Linked DNA regions of Homo sapiens: region 2 is linked to region 1. The links come from fine-mapping of genetic effects on gene expression. A gene starts in region 1. The other region holds a variant in brackets. All regions are shown on one strand. Distances are from middle to middle.

Region 1 (5,372 bases):
CTTTTCTGAAATCTTGAAGTCTGGCAAATATGTATCAAGAACCTGGAAGAAGCAGAAAAGTGATGAAACAGGTTCCAAGTTCTCTGTAGTAAAAAAGGGTTAACAGGCCGGGAGCAGTGGCTCACGCCTATAATCCCAGCACTTTGGGAGGCCAAGGCAGGTGGATCACTTGAGGTCAGGAGTTCAAGACCAGCCTGGCCAACATGGTGAAACCCCATCTCTACTAAAAATACAAAAATTAGCCAGGCATGGTGGTGCACGCCTGCAATCCCAGCTACTCGGGACACTGAGGCAGGAGAATCGCTTGAACCTGGGAAGCGGAAGCTTCAGTGAGCCAAGATTGCGCCAGCCAGTGCACTCCAGCCTGAGCAACACAGTGAGACTGTCTCAAAAAAAAAAAAAAAAAAAGAGCAAACTTTTACTACTTTGTTTTACTAAGTACAAATAACATTATTTTTAATTTCCAAAGTAACCTCTAGATACAATTTTATACTTTTCTCACTGTTCTTTATTCCCCTTTTACCAAGTTTCCCTACACAAACAAAAACGGAAGCCCTCCGCAGTTATCTATCCTTTTTTCACAGAGTACCTTGGGCTGCTGATCTCTACATCTCTGTCTCAAATACAGATCTATTCACAGAATCGCTTGGGTTATGAAATCTCTCTAAGGCCAGGCAAGGTGGCTCACACCTGTAATCCCAGCACTTTGGGAGGCCGAGGCAGGTGGATCACCTGAGATAAGGAGTTTGAGACTAGCCTGGCCAACGTGGTGAAACCCTGTATCTACTAAAAATACAAAAATTAGGCCAGGCACAGTGGCTCACACCTGTAATCCCAGCACTTTGGGAGGCCGAGGCAGGCAGATTACGAGGTCAGGAGATTGAGACCATCCTGGCTAACATGGTGAAACCCCATCTCTATTAAAAATACAAAAAAACTAGCCGGGTGTGGTGGCATGCGCCTGTAGTCCCAGCTACTTGGGAGGCTGAGGCAGGAGAATTGCTTGAACCCAGGAGGCGGAGGTTGCAGTGAGCCGAGAGCGCACCATTGCACTCCAGCCTAGGTAACAAAGTGAGATGCCATCTCAAAAAAAAAATACAAAAATTAGCCGGGTGTGGTGGCAGATCCCTATAATCCCAGCTACTCAAGAGACTGAGGTAGGAGAATTGCTTGAACAGGGGAGGCAGAAGTTGCAGTGAGCTGAAATCGCGCCACTGCACTCCAGCCTGGGCGACAGAGTGAGACTCCGTCTCAAAAAAAAAAAACAAAAACAAAAACAAAAAAAACAACTCTATAGTCAATTTTGCTTCCTAACTTTGCCCATAGCAAAGAAAATTAAGTATGTCAAAGGGCATTTAAATATCCCTCCTCTTTCTCCCAGGAACTCAAAGAGAATTAGGGAAGAGACACAGAAAAAGCTGAAGGAAAATTAACCAGGAGATGTAGATGAGCCCTGAACATCTCCTGGTAACTAAAGAAATGAAATGAAGGACTCTCTCACATAATCCTGGACAAACTTAATTGCAATAAATTAATTTTATCAAGGTTGGAATACACAGATTTATGCATAAGGTTGGCCAAATAAACCCTATTCAGATAATTTGAAAGTCTAAACAAATTTACCAACCTAGTTGAATACAATCCAGTTTTTCATACCCGCAATTTTGTAGTCAATTCAGATAGTGCCTTCCTGCCTACTCAATTCAACAGGTATTTAGTGGGTGATTCCTATGCACTAGGATTGTTTCAGTCCCTGTCTAACCAAACTCTGGTTATCAAGAATTAGACAAGGGTGGCTTTGTGAAGCACAGAAACACAAACTGGCTCTTGAACTCCCTCACCTCTAAATTGTCCAGACACCTAGAATACAAAACAGTAGAGCACCCAGATGGTGTCCTATCTTGCTCTGATTCTCACTTGCCAATTTCAAACCATGTTTTTGTCCCCAAACATACCAAAAAACGTTTGAGTACATCATATATCTGTACACCCATAATATCTCATGCCAATCTGAGCACAGTACCCTCAAAGGTCAACTAAATGGCTGAGTTAGCTGACAGCCACATAATTTTGATCCAAGAATGCCAGCTTAATACTGAACTGACTCACCCAAACCAACCAGGGGGACTCAAGTCTGACGTGGGGGTGATGTAATACACTAAGGCCACAATACAAGAATATCCTTACTACAGCAGCAAGTAGTCCTATTTTTGACAACATTTGATGAGTGAGAGAAATTCAAAGAGAGGCCACAGGATGTCAAGAAAAGGTAAGGGTGAAGCAGGAAGTAAACCAAGAGCTGGTCTTAAAGCAAAATCCAGGAGTCAAAAATCCTCTTCTATCCTAAGTAGGCCTGATTTGGGGGGAGTCCATGTTACTGAACTACTAGAAAATTATATGTGGAAAACCAGACGTTATATGTCAAGAAAATAGGGGGTAAACCAATTCTACATTATAACCTGGTTTGGTTTTCCTTCCCCCCTCCAATCTATAAATGTTGAGAAAGGAAATGAGAAAGGGAATAATATCTGGTGATTCCATACAAAAAGAGAGCTGGACAAATATGGATAACATATAATGAATTTTAAATCCCAAATAGAAGACAACTCCAAGTGGACTTAAACTCTCCCTCAATTATGTTCTCACACCATCTAATTATCTTCCTGTTTTAGACAACAGTTTTGAAATGTACTTATTTGTGACTACCTCTGTTTTCCTCCATCAAACGCCACACTTCCTGAGGGCATGGCTACTGTATCACCCATTTCTCGAAATTTATCTAGATTCTGGGCCTCAGTTTCCTCCTCCTTCCTCCTTCCTCAGTTTCTGTCAAGAGGGACCAAGAATAGCACCAACTACATTGGCTTGGCGAGGAAATTAAATGAGAACGGGCATGCAGGGTGCTTAGTTCAGTCAATGTTTATAACCTGTTAGCATGGTAATAACAATAATTATCGTTACCGTTATTAGCCGACAGCCTCCCGCAACTCTTTTTTTCCTCCGTTTCCCGGACGGACTTCACAGCAAAATCCTGTCGCCAAGAGAAGCGTGGCCCGAAGCCCCTGCTCGCACCCTGCCCCGCCTAGGCGGCGACCGAGCACCGCAACCGCCTCAGAAGCCAGGCCTAGCGGCGCGAACGGCGCTAGGGGCTGGAAGGTGAACTTCAGCCGTTCCAAACTCCGGGAGGAGGGAGACCCGCGCCCTAGCTGCTCCCTCTTTTCTTCCCACGGCTCACCTAGCCTCGCCTCAGATCTGACAACGAAGCGCGAGCCAACCCGCCGCGGGACTCATTCAGTATCGTTGAAATTTTGAACCCAGGCAGCCTAGTCGAATGCACCAATCAGAGCGCCGGGAAAGCAATTCCAGGCTCCCGATTGGCCCTACAGACCGCAGCAATACCGGAAGTCAGAAGGAGGTACCAGCGAACAACGCGGCCCGGAGTTCCTGGGAAGTGTAGTCTCCTGCGCCTGCGTGAGTCCACTGGAACAGCTCTTAGGAGTACGTTATTACAAAGACCGGAGTGCTCTGCTCCAAACTATTTGGGAAAGGTGGTACCAACTGAAGAGGTGGAGAGTCAACCTAGATCACAGAATGGCGCGCATCCTGGACCTCTCCAAGTTTTCAGGGAAGAAAACTCTATTTTTAAAAATTATTCTCGTTATGGTTGTGCATTATCCCTTGAAGGTTCAGGGAGTTCACTTCGTCTTAACATGGAGTCGCCTGCATGCAACATAGACTCGCCCGTAGCGTCCTTCCCAATAGTGCAGGAGTCTTTGAAACCTTTTACCCAGTCCCTGCCCTGATCTTATGAAACCCGCGGTTCGTTGGGAGCTTTATCCGGTTTTATTCCCAACTGCATCCCGGCTTTATGATCCCCATGTCGTAAAAAGAAAACAAAGTCTAGGAGAAGTTGAACAAACATGTCCAAAATCACATAATAAATGGAGAAGATGGGATTCGAATTAAGAAGGTCTGTTCTTTTTATACACCACCGATAATTAATTAGAGGCCGGGCTTCGTGGCGCTCACCTATAATCCCAGCTCCACAGGAGGCTAAAGCAGAAGGATCCCTTGAGACCAAGAGTTCCAGAACAGCGTAGACATCATAACGAGACCACCCCCACCATCTTAATTTTTTTTAATCAATTAGAAAATAGCAGCAACAAGAACAACAAAACAACCCCCTTCATAATACCAGCAAAAGCTAAAGATTCAAAAATTAAGCCTAGGCTGGGTGCGGTAGCTCACGCATGTAATCCCAGCACTTTGGGAGGCCGAGACAGGCAGATCACTTGAGGCGATGAGTTCGAGACCAGCCTGGCCAAAATGTTGAAACCCCCCCCCATCTCTACTAAAAATACAAAAATTAGCCGGGCGTGCTCGCGCGTGCCTGTAATCACAGCTACTTGGGAGGTTGAGGCAGGAGAATCACTTGAACCCAGGAGGCGGAGGTTGCAGTGAGCCAAGATTGCACCACTGCACTCCAGCCTGGGCAACAGAGCGAGACTCTGTCTCAAAACAAAAAAAAAAAGGTCAAGGCAATTCCAATGAAAGTCCCAGTGGGTTCTGTTCTGGAATTTGCCAAGTTAATTCTAAAGTTCCTATGGAAGAGTACAAGTACTGGCATCTTGAATTTTGAAAAAGATTGGGGGATTTATGTACAGATTTTGTACATATTAACATGAAATTATAGTAATTTTTAAAGTATGGTTCAGTTAATTCACACCCATGGGGGTGCAATCGGCAAAATCCAGACAGGAAAACCACAGGACAATTTAGTTCCTTCAAAACATAAACTGCCAGAGTTTGGTTTTGTTTTCTTTTTGTTGTTGTTGTTTTGTTTCATTTTGTTTTTTGAGACGGAGTTTCGTTCTTGTAGCCCAGGCTGGAGTGCAACGGTGTGATCTCAGCTCACTGCAACCTCCGCCTCCCGGTTTCTCCTGCCTCAGCCTCCCAAGTACCCGGGATTAAAAATGCGCCACCACACCCGGCTAATTTTTATATTTTTTGATAGAGACGGGGTTTCACCATGTTGACCAGGCTAGTCTCGAACACCTGACCTCGGGTGATGCCCCCGCCTCACCCTCCCAAGTGCTGGGACTACAGGTGTGAGCCACCACACCTTTTGTTTTCTTTTTTAAGAGTCCTTGTGTTGTAGAGATACATATAGATACGGTAGGGATGAAATTACTCTGGCACTGGCTTCCAAATAATTGGGAGTAGGCAGTGAAGATAAGTAGGTGGGGATTTAGATGAAACAAGATTAGCTACAAATTGATAATTGTTGAACCTGGTGATGGGTTCATGATACATAAATACATACATATACTCTTGTATGAGTTTGAAATTTTCCACAATTAAAATGGGGTGGT
Region 2 (5,372 bases), 110 kb before region 1:
GAGTAGGCCACACCGCCCCCCAGCTGGGCATGGGGCTTCGGCAGGAAACTGAACTTGATCTTGAGGCCCCAGAAAGGCAGCAACTGGAGCAGAAGCAAGACTTCATCTCTTGCTGACAGCCCAATTTGTCAATAGCGCTTTCCTCAGAGCCAGCCTTAACCTGCTGTTGAGTCCATTAAAACGTTTGCTTAAAGTTTTTACCAATAATTAGATCATCAGGGTTGTTTAGTGTGGGATCAAGCCATAACAAAACTGCCTAGCCTCTCAGGGGCCTAGAATTTACAGAACCTTCCTCCTCCCTGCAGCTAGTCTCTCTTCTTTATTCTGGGGGCTGGGAAGGATCCCAAAACAGGGAACTTGGCCGAACCCTGGGCTTTGGATGCTAACCACTGAAGTACCAGCACCTGTAGGATGCTGTCTTTGAAGAAACTGAGGCGGACCTCCAAATGCAGCCCTAAGGCAGAGGTCAACGTGGAAGACCAGCCCTTCTCCAAGCCCCACTGGTCTTTGCAAGCTGTACGTTGTAGGCAATCTGAGAACTGGAAAGGGGGACTACAACCAGAAAGTTGGTTACCCTGCCATGGGAATAAAGTAGCTGTTTTCCACCCCACATATCAGGCCTTTTATTCTTTTCTGAGTTCTGATTTTATTTATAGGAATCCTCTTACAGATGCCAATATTGTAAGTCTCTTTTAATGATACATTAATAAGCCACCTTCATGGGGGGAAAACTGTGATTCGATAAAGGACAGAAATCAATCAATTGCTGTTTGTTTAGTCATTTAGCAGACATTTCTTGAACACCTACTCTGTTCCAGGCCTCTGTTCCAGTGTCCAGTGTGTGACTCTGGGGGTACAGCAAAACAGCATGCTCTTTACTCTCTTGGAGTTCACATTCTGTTTTCTAGTGGGGACCCAGCGACTCTCCGCTACCCCTGCCCCTCACTGAAGAGGCAGTATTTAGGAATTACAGAATCCTAGGCTCATATCCAGCTTTGTCACTCACTAGATGTGGGACATCAGGGAATTTACTTACCTTCTCTGAGCCTCAGAGCCCTCATCTATTCAAAAGAAGCAATGAAGCCCTCCAGAGCAGGGTTGGTTGAAGAAGTAAGTGTAGGGTTGGGGAGGTGAGCTGGCCTGGTACAGAGTGGGTGAGCAGTGACTTGGGAGTGGGAGAGCAGAGAGGATGCCGTCCCCTCCTCCAGAAGGCCTGACTGTTCTGGGCCTGACTCTCTGGACCTCCCGACCCCAGGCTGCAGCTGGGGTAGCCTCAGTTCAGAGTGACAATCCGCAGCCATGTTCATATCCCTACTCCATACTAGGCTCTTGATGAGGGTGCTGCATTCTGTGTAAGGGGAACCTGTTGCCTCCCCACCATGGCCTGGACAGCTGAGGAGTCACCAGCTCCATGTTAGAGATGGGGAAACTGAGGCTCAGCCAAGGTCTTGAGGTGCCTCTTGGGAGGGAGAATGTCTCTCCCCAGATAGCTGTCCTTCCCACACCAGTCACTAGGGGGCGACAGGGATGCAGCAGAACTGAATTTCATGGGCTCTCCTTACCATCCTAGGTGCCCCTCCCTGCAGACACCCCAGAGCTAGGAGGATGGGGTAGGAGTGGTGTGGCCCCAAGGCCTCTGCACCGCAGGAGAAGGCAGTAGACCACAGGCCTGGGAGAAGAGGGAAAAGCAGGAGTAGAGGTAGGGATTAGAGAAGCCCCTGGGGCTTCTCTCACTCTAGGGGGACTGGGCTCAGGCCCTGCCTCTCTCTCCTCTCTCTCTCTCTCTCTCTCTCTCTCTCTCTCTATTCATTCCTTTCACTCCTTGTGTTTGCACCTGTGTCTCTCAGTATCTCCTTTCTCTCTGGCTTTGTGGATTTCCTTGTTTCTGCCTGCTCAGTGATTCTCACTTTCTCCGTATACTACGTGTGTGTGTGTGTGTGTGTGTGTGTGTGTCTGTGTCTGTGTCTCTGTGTTTCTGTGTGTGTATGTCTCTGTGTGTCTGTGTATGTGCTTGTGTGTGTGTCTGTGTGTATGCCTATGTGTCTGTGTGTGTCTGTCTCTGTGTATAT[G/C]TGTGTGTGTGCTTATGTCTGTGTGTGTGTGTCTGTGTGTGTGTCTGTGTCTGTGTGTCTCTGTGTGTCTGTACGTGTATGTCTGTGTGTCTCTGTGTGTCTGTACGTGTATGTCTGTGTGTCTCTCTGTGAGTGTCTGAGAGGCTCTGGGTGTCTCTGTCCGTTGTGTCTGCCTCTGTCTTATCTTTGTCTCTCCCTCTTTCTCCCTCTTGTGATGTCTCTACCTCTCTCTGTCTCTATCTCTTTTTTCCCTGTCTCTGTTTCATATGTTTCTGCCTCTGTCTCATTTTGTTTTTGTCTCTGTCCCGCTCAGTTTCACATCCTGTCCCTCCCCAGCCACCACCACCCAGCACACGTGGGCTGAGGGTCTCAGTCCCTTCCTTCCCAACTCCTCATCCCTGGCAGCTGCTCGGCTTCCCACTACTGGCCTCTCCTGCCCGCCTCTTTTGGGCCTTGTGGGAGTGGGGCGAGGGAGGAGGGGAGGATGGCTCAGCAGACCCACCCCTTTTTGCCTTTCCAGGCTGGGAGGCTGGGCCAGTGGACCTTTTAACCAGCCTGGGCAGGCTATTCCGGACGCCAGCCCTGGAAGCTGAGCCTGACCCAGCAGGTCCCAGCAGCCTGGCAGCCCGGCCAGCATGCAGCAGCAGCCTCTGCCCGGGCCTGGCGCCCCCACAACTGAGCCAACCAAGCCTCCCTACAGCTACATCGCCCTTATTGCTATGGCCATCCAGAGCTCACCGGGGCAGCGGGCCACCCTCAGTGGCATCTACCGCTACATCATGGGCCGATTCGCCTTCTACCGCCACAACCGGCCCGGCTGGCAGAACAGCATCCGCCACAACCTGTCACTCAACGAGTGCTTTGTCAAGGTGCCCCGCGATGACCGCAAGCCAGGCAAGGGCAGCTACTGGACGCTGGACCCTGACTGCCACGACATGTTTGAGCACGGCAGCTTCCTACGCCGCCGCCGCCGCTTCACCCGGCAGACAGGTGCTGAGGGCACCCGGGGCCCCGCCAAGGCACGCCGTGGACCCCTCAGGGCGACCAGCCAGGACCCAGGAGTCCCCAACGCCACGACCGGCAGGCAGTGCTCATTCCCACCAGAGCTGCCAGATCCCAAGGGCCTAAGCTTTGGGGGTCTGGTGGGGGCCATGCCAGCCAGTATGTGCCCAGCAACCACTGATGGCAGGCCTCGGCCACCCATGGAGCCCAAAGAGATTTCCACGCCCAAGCCTGCATGCCCAGGGGAGCTCCCCGTGGCCACCTCATCTTCCTCATGCCCAGCGTTTGGCTTTCCTGCCGGCTTCTCAGAGGCTGAGAGTTTTAATAAGGCCCCTACGCCCGTCTTGTCCCCGGAATCAGGCATCGGGAGCAGCTACCAGTGTCGGCTGCAGGCACTGAATTTTTGCATGGGGGCTGACCCAGGCCTTGAGCACCTCTTGGCCTCAGCAGCCCCCTCCCCTGCACCACCCACCCCTCCAGGCTCACTCCGGGCCCCACTGCCCCTGCCAACTGACCACAAGGAACCCTGGGTTGCAGGTGGCTTCCCTGTCCAGGGAGGCTCCGGCTACCCATTGGGGCTGACCCCCTGCCTATACCGGACGCCAGGAATGTTCTTCTTTGAGTAAAGGCAGCCTCACCTCGGGCAGTCCCTGCAGGTCCCTCACCCTCCGGGCTGAGCCTGGCTCTAGGACCTGAAGAACTCTCGAAGGACCCAGCCCTGGTGAGCCAAGGACAACCACACAGAAAGCCAGGATTGAAGCGGTGCTCAGCCAGGCCCCTGGGGCCTCCGGACAAACTTGGGGGTGAGGGGAAGCAGGGCCTCTTGGGATTTACTCTGTGGCTCTCAGGGCCAATAAAGCCATGTGATGATGAGGGTCAGCTTGCCTGATGGCTGGGGGCTGAGGGCCAGGGTGCCTGCTTGTATGTGGGGGTGGCTGTGGCTGTGGGGTTGTGCAGCGGGGGCAGAGACCCTTGGTGGGAATATCTCACATGAGGTTTTCTCCTGCTGGGGACTTTCTCAGGGAGTTTCCTAGAAAGGGAGAGGAAGGGGAGGTAGGGAATGGGGAGCAGGGAGAGGAGGATACAGGCAAGGGAGAGACTGGGCAGGGGCAAGACTGGGCTGGCCTGAGGGACTGATTCTCCAGTCTCAGATGCTGGGACTTAGCCCCCGTAGGTGCAGTCATCATAACCCTGACAATTTGTGACACTGATCCTGTCCCGGGCTTGTATGTATCATCTCACCTGTGTGATTTGGAAAGTTGGCCCCGTTTACAGTGGTGGAAACAGGCTCGCCAGCTCCAACTCCAGAGGGCAAATGGGTGGCAGAGGGTAAATCAAAACCACATCTGTGTGGCTCTACCCTCCAGCCTCTGACCTGCAGCTTGAGTGAGGACATAAGGGTGGAGAAGAGGGTCAGGGCAGAGCTGGTGGTGGCCCCCAGAGGTGGGAGGGCTTTGCTGCAATCCTGGAAGGCCAGGGCTAGAAAGGCACCCTTTACCCATTGTGCAGACAGGGCACCTAGGGTTCAAAAGGCAGCACCTACCCCCTGTTTGGACTTCCCACATTAATGTGGGAGCTTCCCTGAGCCCCCAGCTCCATGAGGTCCTCTGGTGACTCTTTAAGACGGCATTTCTTGGGGCCAGCAGCATGGGCTGTGACTGTCCTAGGTACCATTCAGAAGTGACTGAGCCCTGACCTTTGACCTTCTCTGACTATCCCTTCGCGAGGAAGCAGGAGAAATGGGGATATTCTTGGTCCTCGTTAGAGGAACAGAGAAGGAATCTGAAACATCGCTGTCCTCACAGACCCCAGCACTGGAGGAGCAGAGGCGAATGGCTTCCTCCCCAGAGCCTCAGTCCTCCTATCTGGATCATGGGCATAGGGAGAGGAGGGAGGGATGCTGGGGCACCCCCATTCTGGTTTTTGGCATGTGGTCTAGAGTGTCTTATGTCCCACGAGGTTACACTCAGGGGGCTGGAGACCCCTTCTTGGGCAGGCAGCCCTCTCCCCTCCAGAGGCCCTCCCTTGCCCAGGCAGCCCCGAGGACTCCAGCCTTTGCTGCTCCCTCCTCCCCCGACAGGTCCCCTGGGGCCTGGGAGGAAGCGAGCCCGGCTGGACAGCCCGAACTGTCTGGTTCCCACAGTCTCAGAGCTGGGGTGGAGGAGGACCTGCAGGGTGAGAGGGGCTGGGAAAACGCCTGGCCAGCTGTGGGGCCCCTCCCCACCATGCCTGCTGAACCCCAGCCTGGAACCCATCAAACAATGGGGAGGAGGAGCAAGGGTCTGTGCAGCCTCCTATGGG

Which allele goes with the higher level. Positions count from the first base shown, and alleles are read on the strand shown. Sizes are in standard deviations (SD) of each study's normalised expression.
As copies of G replace C in region 2, the expression in subcutaneous fat of the gene that starts at base 3,293 in region 1 goes down (moderate effect, 0.56 SD a copy in FUSION).

What was found. PIP is the estimated chance that this variant, and not a neighbour inherited with it, causes the effect.
Region 2: its variant is the best candidate, but not a certain one, in a credible set for the expression of TPX2 in subcutaneous fat (FUSION, PIP 0.60).

What each region holds. Positions count from the first base shown.
Region 1 is chr20:31,737,211-31,742,582 of GRCh38, reverse strand. TPX2 (TPX2 microtubule nucleation factor) reads right to left here and starts at 3,293. Exons shown (of 18, transcript NM_012112.5): 1 at 2,962-3,293; 2 at 1-42. RefSeq lists enhancers at 2,981-3,140, 3,231-3,280.
Region 2 is chr20:31,842,875-31,848,246 of GRCh38, reverse strand. It overlaps FOXS1 (forkhead box S1), which reads left to right and starts at 2,643. Exons shown (of 1, transcript NM_004118.4): 1 at 2,643-3,944. The coding sequence starts at 2,705. The coding sequence ends at 3,697. It also overlaps a transcript of DUSP15 not described here. RefSeq lists an enhancer at 2,702-3,259. The variant G/C (reference allele first, on the strand shown) is at 2,070.